Linked DNA regions of Homo sapiens: region 1 is linked to region 2. Evidence: fine-mapped expression QTL. A gene starts in region 2. The other region holds a variant in brackets. All regions are shown on one strand. Distances are between the middles of the regions. Region 1 overlaps NUP205 (nucleoporin 205). Region 2 holds the start of STMP1 (short transmembrane mitochondrial protein 1).

Region 1 (5,376 bases), 52 kb after region 2:
TTACATCTCAACCTCTGGAAGATTAAAATTACCAAAACTAAAGCAAATGCAGAAATTACAAAGAAGATCCATAAATTCAACTAAATAACAATAAACTGAATAAAAATTTAACAAAAAAGAATAGATAAGAGAAAAAGTTCTTATATTAAATATAAGAAAAAGTTGCTAGCTCTAATATATATAAAGATCTCCATTACAGATATGAATAACATAAAGATCTAAGTACCCCAGATGGTAAAAGTAGCCCATATGGTAAAAGACATTTTATATGAGAAAAATAAAAATAGCCCATAATAAAAAATGTCCATCTGTTTTCAGGAATTAAAAAAAAAAATCAAGATGATAATAGGTAGGTATCATATTATAAATCAGCAAATTTTTTTTTTTTTTGAGTCAGGGTCTCACTCTGTCACCCAGGTTGGAGTACAGTGGTGCAATCACAGCTCACTGCAGCCTCAACCTCCTGGGCTAAAGTGATCCTCCCAGCTCAGCCTTCTGAGTAGCTGGGACTACAGTAATTGCATGCCACCATGCGTGGCTAATATGAACATTTATTAGATGCTTTCCATGTACCAGGCACTTTAAGACATGTTTATTCTGAGCACTATTAATACCTAGTATAATTGTTATGACTACTTGTGAATTAAAATCTAAAGCCAAAACTCTTGATAGTCTTTGACCCAACACAGTCAATCCTCATTATTTACAGATTCCATATTTGCAAATTCACCTAACATGCTAAAATTTATTTAAAATCCCAAAATCAATACTTGCAGTGCTTCCATGGTCCTTCATGCGCGGGAGAACAGCTACAAACTGCAGTCACCGAACTCTCATGCTCTCTAATGGAGCAATGCTTTTCCTGTTCCAGCTATCATACTATAAAAAGGGTTCTTTAAATGGTCTATTTAGTGCCACGTTTTTTGCATTTTTGTGCTTTTTGTTGATTTTGCTGTTTAAAACAGCCCCCAAGCATAGTGCTGAAATGCTGCCTTGTCCCTAAGTGCAAAAAGGCTGTGATATGCCTTTAAGATAAAATACTACATTAGATAAATTTCATTCAGGCTGAGTTATAGTGCTGTTGGCTATGAGTTTAATGTTAATGAATCAACTACATTAAGTAAGGTGTCTTTAAACAGAAACACACATAAAACATGATTATGAATTCATCAGTTGACAAGAATGTTGGAACCAGACACTTGCAGGAATCCTAGCCTGTATTTTCCATAGGGGCAATGAATTCACCAATTCAGTTTTCACAATGACTTTATAAAACACAACTACTGTGAATAACGAGAACTGACTATAAACCCTTGTCTGGAAATATATTCTGTTTTTTTTTCTTCTGTTTTTTTTGAGATGCAGTTTCATTCTGTCGCTCAGGCTGGAGTGCAGTGGCGCGATCTCGGCTCACTGCAAGCTCCACGTCCCGGGTTCATGCCATTCTCCCGCCTCAGCCTCCTGAGTAGCTGGGACTACAGGTGCCCACCACCATACCCGGCTAATATTTTGTTTTTGTATTTTTAGTAGAGACGGGGTTTCACCGTGTTAGCCAGGATGGTCTTGATCTCCTGACCTCATGATCCACCCGCCTCAGCCTCCCAAAGTGCTGGGATTACAGGTGTGACCCACAGTGCCCGCCTGGAAATATATTCTTAAGAAAAATACAAAACAACCAAAGGTAATTTATTTATTTACAACTGCCACCTCCCAGGTTCAAGCGATTCTCCTGCCTCAGCCTCCCAAGTACCTGGGATTAACAGGCACATGGCATAACGCCTGGCTAATTTTTGTTTTTTTGTTCGCTACAGCAGAGTAAAAAAAAAACTGGAAACAACCTGAATGTAATTTACATTGTTGCAGCACAGAAAGTTTATACAGAGAGGAGTAAAAAAGACACAAAATTTCATGTATACTGAATACAACTATAAACAATGTATATACACAAAGAGAAAGAAGACAAGGAAAAGAGTAAAAAGCTCTGCTACAGATGTACATTGACCTTTTAAACAGTTTTGATACCATTTTGATATTCTATAAACAAACAAAAACTTAAGCTAATACCGAACTTCTCAAAACAAAATCAGTTAGGTCTATTACTGGGGGAGTTAAGAAAACACAAGAAGATACTCTAACAAGTGGAAGAAATAATACTATCAGAAGAGAACTGCCAGGCAGTGACTCACGCATGTAATCCCAGCACTTTGGGAGGCCAAGGTGGACGGATCACCTGAGGTCAGGAGTTTGAGACCACCCTGGCCAACATGGTGAAACCCCGTCTCCACTAAAAATACAAAAATTATCCAGGCGTGGTGGCCCAGGGACGCCTGTAATCCCAGCTACTTGGGAGACTGAGGCACGAGAATTGCTTGAACCTGGGAGATGGAGGTTGCAGTGAGCCGAGACCACACCACTGCACTCCAGGCAAGGCGACAGAGCAAGACTCTGTCCCCCACCCAAAAAAAAAAAAAAAAGAAGAGAAGGACACAAAAAGTGAGTTCAAAA[A/T]GCACTGAAAGCCATTTTATTAAGATGTGGGCTATATCCTTCCTGGTTTCCAAGACCAGGGACCAGGTAGAAGAAATCTCCGTTCTTAAAGAAAAGAGGGCAAAGGCACCAGGCCTCAACTTCTTCACCCAGAAGCCCTTGTGTTGCAGGACAAGGAAGGTATCAGTAAGGACCATTTCCCTTTGCTACAATCAGATTTATTTAAACTAACAAGCTCTTCTTACTTAGAGGTTTAAATTTTTTTCTGAAGCAGGGTGAAGTACAAACATATAGGTATAGGGAGTATATTTAGTTATAAATGGAGCAGTGCTTTCTGTAAAAATGCAGATCCTGACTCATCAGGTCTAAAGTGGGGCCTCAGATTCTGCACTAATAAGCTCCTAGGAGATAATGCTGATGATACTGGTCCCTGGGCCATATTTGAGTAGCAAGGTCACAGAGCATATGTTATGGCCGGGCACGGTGGCTCACGCCTGTAATCTCAGCACTTTGGGAGGCCAAGGCGGGTGGATCACCTAAGGTCAGGAGTTTGAGACCAGCCTGGACAACATGGTGAAGCCCCCTCTCTACTAAAAATACAAAATTAGCCGGGTGTGATGGCACATGCCTGTAATCCCTGCTACTTGGGAGGCTGAGGCAGGAGAATCGCTTGAACCCGGGAGGTGGAGGTTGCGGTGAGCTGAGATCGTGCCACTGCACTCCACCTGGGCAATAGAGTGAGACTCCATCTCAAAAAACAGTAACAACGACAACAGAGAGTATGTTATAAACTGGTAAACTGCTGGTATGGACATGTTTTCCTTGGCTAGTAGAGTGTTCTAAAAGTTAGAACAACTTTAACAAAAATTCAGATTTCCAAATTCTTTTAAAAATGAATAAATAAAAATAAAAATTCAGACAATCTGGCCCAACAAATCCTGCACTCTGGCATGGTAAAATAAGCCAGGGATGAGTAGGAAGGCACATGCTCTCCAGTCTGCCAGATTCTCCTTTCCTCCCACTCCCTTAACTGGACCCTGGCTTCATTCATTTACTTCACCTGCCATTAGCCTAGGTGTTAAGCTTATCAGTTGTTTCTACTTATATATCAAATTCTGTAAATCTGTGCTAATATGTACATCAAATTTGTTCCCCCATAAGGAAGAATTAATTTTGATTTACAGGAAAACCTAGCTATAGTACTTACAGTGAAGGGATGTTTGGACAGCCGGAGGACAGAAAAGATAGTAAAGAATTACAAAAAGAAAAGCAGGAGATTAACAAAGAAAAATATCCATGCCAGTAACACTAAGAGGTTAGTGATGCATTTCTTTTTTTTTTTTTGAGATGGGGTCTCGCTCTGTTGCCCAGGCTGGAGTGCAGTGGTGCGATCTCGGCTCACTGCAAGCTCCGCCTCCCAAGTTCACGCCATTCTCCTGCCTCAGCTTCCCAAGTAGCTGGGACTACAGGCACACACCACCATGCCCGGATAATTTTTGTATTTTTTTTTTTCTGGGACAGAGTTTCGCTCTGTCGCCTAGGCTGGAGTGCAGTGGCGCGATCTCGGCTCACTGCAAGCTCCACCTCCCGGGTTCACGCCATTCTCCTGCCTCAGCCTCCCGAGTAGCTGGGACCACAGGTGCCAGCCACCATGCCCGGCTAATTTTTTGTATTTTTAGTAGAGATGGGGTTTCATTGTGTTAGTCAGGATGAATTTTTGTATTTTTAGTAGAGATGGGGTTTCACCATGTTCACCAGGATGGTCTTGATCTCCTGATCTCATGACCCACCATTTCTTATCCTAAAAATGTAAATTTAGGGTAACACTTAAATTGAGAAATTAGTCACAGCTTATAAAGCCTGGTTCTTTTTTTTTTTTTTTTTTTTGAGACGGAGTTTTGCTCTTGTTGCCCAGGCTGGAGTACAGTGGCACGATCTAGGTTCACTGCAACCTCTGCCTCCCGGGTAGAAGCAATTCTCCTGCCTCAGCCTCCTGAGGAGCTAGGATTACAGGCGTCCACAACCAGGCCCAGCTAATTTTTTTTGTATTTTTAGTAGAGATGGGGTTCCACCATGTTGGCCAGGCTGGTCTCTAACTCCTAACCTCAGGTGATCTGCTCACCTTAGCCTCCCAAAGTGCTGGGATTAAAGGCGTGAGTCACTGCACGCGGCCAAGCCTAGTTTTTAAAACACTTATAAAATGAATAAAACAATAAACAAAAGTGAACAAGCGAAATTATAAATTATCATTATAGTTTACTTATGTATTTATTTTTATTTTTTTTGAGACAGAGTCTCACTTTGCCACCCAGCTGGAGTGCAGTGGCATGATCTTGGCTCACTGCAACCTCTACCTCCTGGGTTCAAGCAATTCTCATGCCCCAGCCTCCCAAGTAGCTGGGATTACAGGCACGTGCCACCACGCCCAGCTAATTTTTGTATTTTCAGCAGAGACAAGGTTTTGCCATGTTTCCCCGGCTGGTCTCCAACTCCTGGCCTCAAGTGATCCAGACCACCTCAGCCTCCCAAAGTGCTGGGGTTATGGGCGTGAGCCACCATGCCCAGGCCCAGCCCTCATTATAGTTTAAATGTTAATCTGACATTCTACCACTTAACATAGTTGTATACAGGACTTCTTAATTTATTTGGTTATTAAAAAGTGCTTTCTGGCCAGGCGCGGTGGCTCATGCCTATAATCCCAGCACTTTGGGAGACCGAGGCAGGTGGATCACAAAGTCAAGAGATTGAGACCATCCTGGCCAACATGATGAAACCCTGTCTCTACTAAAAATACAAAAATTAGCTGGGCATGGTGGGCACGCCTGTAGTCCCAGCTACTTGGGAGGCTGAGGCAGGAGAATCGCTTGAGCCTGGGAGGTGGAGGTTGCAGTG
Region 2 (5,376 bases):
AGACCCTATCTCCACTATTAAAAATAGTAATAATAAAGGGGAAAAACTGCAGTAAAAGAAAAGGGGAAAATCACAGGAACAAGGTCTCTTCAAGATAGGGACAAAGGGAGAATATTTTAATCTGAGGAGGAATATGAATAATGGAAGGACGTTATCACCAACACAAGCAAGTGCAGTGGTTTTCAAACTGTCCACAAATCACAACTGTAGGAGAAACATCTTAGACGGTTCCAAAATGTGTAATGACAACGCACTGCTTAACTTGTGACTGTTTCATCACTTCTAAACCTTTCCTATCACCTACCCTTCTGAGAGAAGCTAATCCCCACTTGAGAAGAAACTCAATCAGGGTTCAAATGAACCCTGCAAAAGAAAAACTGAACACTATCTGAATCCTTGTTGAGTGCTCCTGTTTTTAAGTTCTTTAATGTGTTAACTCATTTTTAATCCTCACAACAAAACTGTGAGGTGGGTTTGCATTTTCAGATGTGGAAATGGGAGCACAGAAAATTTCAATAGCCCACCCACGCTACCACAGCTTGAAAATGATGGGAGGCAGAGTTCAAACTGAGAAGTCTGACTCTGAAGTTTAATCTCTTAAACACTAGAACATGATGGTCATTTTTTAATAGATGAAATGACTGCACACAAAGAGAAATACTTGCTCAACTTTAGAGTCAGTGGCTCATTTGACAGAGGTGGAATCAATGTGAAAAGTAATGCTATCCACTTATTTAAAAAAAAAAGCAATGAGGTGGAAGACCAGAGGGTGAGAGAACATCAGTGTTCAGTTACTTCTGAGCTAGGAATATAATTGACAGCTTTAGCATCTCTCCTTAAATACTGAGAATTCTGAATTCTCAAATCAGAATCTGACCAGGCACAGTGGTGGCTCATGCCTGTAATCCCAACACTGTGGGAGGCCTAGGCAAGACCTGTCTCTACAAAAAAAAAATTTTAAAATTAGTCACGGGTGGTAGTGCGGGCCTGTAGTCCTAGCTACTACTAAAGAGGCTGAGGTGGGAAGGCTGCTTGAGGCCAGGAATTAAAGACTGCACTGAGCCATGATTGTGCCACTGGACTCTAGCCTAGGTGACAAAGAGAAACCTTGTCTCAAAAAAAAAAAAAAAAAAAAAAAATTAACACACAGTAAAAGTTTATTGCAAAACCAAATAGACTCATTCTGCAAAACCACTTAGAAAGTTAACTGTAATTGAATCATGTCCTCTCAGTTTATCAATGAGCAACAGATATAGTAAGCAGCTCAATTACATCATTCTATACTCTGGAGCTAAGTGATACCGCTTTTAATCTAGTGTTTACTACAAGAAAATGACTGTCATTATTCTGAACTCCTAAACTAACATCTAGTTAGGACACTACAGAAACTCCTAGAGGCAAAGGAGCAGCCCTGTCTTAGCTGGGCAGATTAAGGACACTCTTTTGACTAATTGGATTTAACAATCCATTACCATCTTTCAAAAGGACAAAAGGGGTGCATTTTGTGTTTTAATCTCTTTGATAAAGATACAGCATTTGGGGCCGGGCGCGGAGGCTCACGCCTGTAATCCCAGCACTTTGGGAGGCTGAGGCAGGCAGATCCCGAGGTCAGGAGATCGAGACCATCCCGGCCAACGGGGTGAAACCCCGTCTCTACTAAAAATACAAAAATTAACTGGGCCTGCTGGCGCGCACCAGCTACTCGGGAGGCTGAGGCAGGAGAATCGCTTAAACCCAGGAAGCGGAGGCTGCAGTGAGCCGAGATCGCACTACTGCACTCCAGCCTGGCGACAGAGCGGGACTCCGTTAAAACAAACAACAAAAAAAGATACAGCATTTGAGCCGGGAGCAGTGGCTCACGCCTGTAATCCCAGCACTTTCGTAGGCTGAGGTGGGTTGATCACTTGAGGTCAGGAGTTCGAGACCAGCCTGGCCAACTTGGTGAAACCCGTCTCTACTAAAAATACAAAAATTAGCTGAGCATCCTGGTGCGCGCCTGTAATCCCAGCTACTCCGGAGGCCGAGGAGGGAGAATCGGTTGAACCCGGGAGGCGGAGGTTCCAGTGAGCCCAGATTGCGCCACTGCACTCCAGCCTGACGACACAGCGAGACTCCGTCTCAAAAAAAATAAAAAATAAAAAAAAATAGAGGTTGAAAGCATCAAGTTTTGAATGCACAATAGCTTGGCAGAAAAACTTTCACTTGAAAATTTGATGAGCAACTCCTGGAACCTTCACCAAGCAATTTTTGAAATATACCGAGTTTTGCCAGAAAACTCGTTTTTAACTCAAATAAGGAGCCAAGAGAAATAGTCTGCTTACTCATGCTTACACATTTTGGGAAAAATTACTTGTATACCAGTGTCTGACTCATTCCTCCAACTCTGAAAGGTCTGATGAGGACTTAGCCTCTCGGACTTCGTGAGGTGGCTAATTTACGGTTTATTCCTGGCCTTCCTACCTCCTCAGAAAAGCCAACTAGCAGGGCTCCACAGCAGGGACCGGCCGGCGACCATGTAATGGAACAGGAGCGCAGAAAGAAAGGGGGGCGGACTACGAAAAGTCATCAAGGACCACACAAGCTTTAATACAAAGATTGCACAATGAGCGCGGGGCGCGGCACACAATAAGAAGCTCTGGAAACGCACACTCTCTGACACCTCAAAGTTTTAGGGACTTGGATGGCTGCAGAAAAATATTGGCAAAGGGATTTTCTGGGGAGGCAGGAAGAAAACGGCCGCCCTGCGAGGCGACGACCAGGCGCGGGGGACGAAGGGACCGCTGGACCCACGCCCAGGCCGGGTCGGCGGGGTCGGCAATCCTCAAGGGGGAAATGGGGTCCGAGGCACGCCCCAGGCAGCGGGCCCCGCTCTTCGGCAGCTCCACTCACCAGGAACTGGAGCATGATGTCGGTGGGGAGGGCGAGGAGGGCGCGAAGGACTGCAGCAGCTCCGCGGGCCGGTCCGAGCCTACCTCCCCATGCGCGGGGGGGGCGGAACCCCTCGTCGACTTCCGGGTCACGCCACGCCCCGCCCCGCTCCTCCCACTCAGCCCGCGCCCGGAAACGACTTGCAGTGTCGCAGCGCCCAGGTTCCCCCTGGCGGAGCGCGTTGGCCTCACCGCCTGAACCGGCGGGGCAGCGAGCGCGCGACAGGACTTGCGAAGAGCAAGTCCCGAGCCTGGCTGGGCATCCTTGAGCATCCCGCCTCTGTAAACCTGGGCCGAGGCCCAGGAATCTATATTATTCTCAGCACGCGGACTATTCTGATACACAGCCCAGTTTAGGGCTCTCTAACCTAGAAGGACGGCATGAGCAGCGGGTCCCATCCCTAGGTTCGCAGCTGAATCGTGGGGGCTTTTGCAGCATCCTCTACTTGGGCCCAGCTGGACTTTGCGGGGAGGAAAGGAGGCTTGTAGCTCTCAAAGCTCCGCAGGTGTGCTGTGTAATCAGCGTTGTGTAATCAGGTGTTGTGTAATCAAGGTAGAGGCTGGGTACCGTATGGGGCCCATGCTGCCGTGTGCCGCACGCCAGTCACTGAGATGATGAGTTTTGTAGCAGAGAAAAGGTTTATTCACCAGGCAGCCAGCCGAGGAGACGGGAGAACAGATCTCAAATCTGCCTCCCCAAAGATGGGTTTTAGGGATATTTATGGGATAGAGGAGCAGGGTGGTCTGAGGTGTGGGGAAAGGCGGTTGAAGGTAAGGAAAAGTTTGGCAATGGGTTATCTGCGCGAGGTAGTCAAGCTTCATGGCTCTTTATAGGATACATGGTCACAAAATGACATCCTTAGCATGATCTGAGTGTGGAGGTTTTGGCCCTCTAATGTCAGAAGGACACCCATCGGGCTTTCATGCAGGCCCAGTTGAGAGGTTGGTGGTTTAAACTGTACAAGAACTGACCCCAACTTCCTGAAAAACAAGAAACCTTTATCAAGCAACCCAGATGTCAGAGATGTTATCCATAAGGAAGATAGTGGGAGCTTAGATATATATTGTTTAGCTCTGTGACTTTAGCTATGTGGGTTTTTTAATCCACTAAAAGCAGGTGACTAAAAACAAGTGAGAGAAGTTGCATTTGGCAGGCCTCATCAGGTTGGCTCTCAGTTTCACTGGCCTAGCTGGGTTTCTTGCCTGGGATGGCCATAGGTCCTGTTGACAATTTGTATCATCGCCACAAAGAGTCTGTTCTGTCAGTCTTCCGGTCTGTGTATGTGTGTGTTTTTTTCTCTCTTTCTCTTTTAAAGAATTTATTTTAAGCCTATTATACCACACAGTATGTTTTAAACACTAACTCCCTAATAAGATATATAACTCCCTAATAAGATAAAGCAAAGACAAAAAAAGTTCATCTTATTAGAAACAAGATACACCATCCCTTATTGTCTTCAAAAATTATTGCACTTTAATTTTCATAATTTGACAAAGCATTCATGAAACAATCTGCAGACTAGTTTTAACAGACAAATAACACCTGTAAGCAGACATGACTGTCCTAAATTATTAGGTACGAATTTTACAAACTTTTTTTTTTTTTTGAGACGGAGTCTCGCTCTGTCACCCAGGCTGGAGTGCAGTGGCGCAGTCTCGGCTCACTGCAAGCTCCGCCTCCCGGGTTCACGCCATTCTCCTGCCTCAGCCTCCCGAGTAGCTGGGACTACAGGCGCCCGCCACCACGCCCGGCTAATTTTCTGTATTTTTAGTAGAGACGAGGTTTCAACGTGTTAGCCAGGATGGTCTCGATCTCCTGACCTTGTGATCCGCCCGCCTCGGCCTCCCAAAGTGCTGGGATTACAGGCGTGAGCCACCACGCCTGGCCCAAACTTTACTTATATTAGTGGTAACGGTGGAGCTGGAGAGTATCACGCCTTCTCCAAGCTGCCCAGCAAGAACCATCAATAGTGTGGTGGAACTTATGGCACTTTCCAAGGCCACAGCTCCTTTGGCCTGCAGATGTCAGCCCACACATCTCCCTCTGCTTGTGGACTGGTTTGGTGATCGACTGGGTGTCAGGATTTCTTCTGATAACTTCATAGAATGGATCAATGAGGATAACCTCAAAAAATCTGTATGTGGAATCTTCACCAACCCAGTAAGAATTCAGGACTCTTAGAGCCCCACAGTTGTGTCCAACTCGCTCCTCTGCAATGGACTGAAGGCTTCGAGCAAACTTCAGCTGGTTAACACCATGATGGACAGGCTTGCCATAAGTTGCACCCTTAGGAATTGGGCATTTTTGACCACCATGGTGAACATGAATCCTATATATAATGTAACCTTGCTTGGCCTTGTAGCCCAGCTGGCGTGCTTTATCAGGCCAGGTGGGGCAGGGAGCCCCGTGGACAGCAGATAGCTGGCAGTACTGCCAGCAGCAGACCCT

The links. PIP is the estimated chance that this variant, and not a neighbour inherited with it, causes the effect. A credible set is the group of variants that fine-mapping cannot tell apart.
Region 1: its variant is the best candidate, but not a certain one, in a credible set for the expression of STMP1 in subcutaneous fat (GTEx, PIP 0.57).

What each region holds. Positions count from the first base shown.
Region 1 is chr7:135,608,100-135,613,475 of GRCh38, reverse strand. All of the region lies in intron 22 of NUP205 (nucleoporin 205), which reads right to left. Among named protein-coding and RNA genes, the nearest start is that of STMP1, 52 kb to the left of the region's middle. The variant A/T (reference allele first, on the strand shown) is at 2,506.
Region 2 is chr7:135,660,108-135,665,483 of GRCh38, reverse strand. STMP1 (short transmembrane mitochondrial protein 1) reads right to left here and starts at 2,970. Exons shown (of 3, transcript NM_001130929.2): 1 at 2,890-2,970. The coding sequence starts at 2,904. It also overlaps the pseudogene RPL15P11. RefSeq lists silencers at 109-403, 2,876-3,095 and enhancers at 1,187-1,711, 1,712-2,236.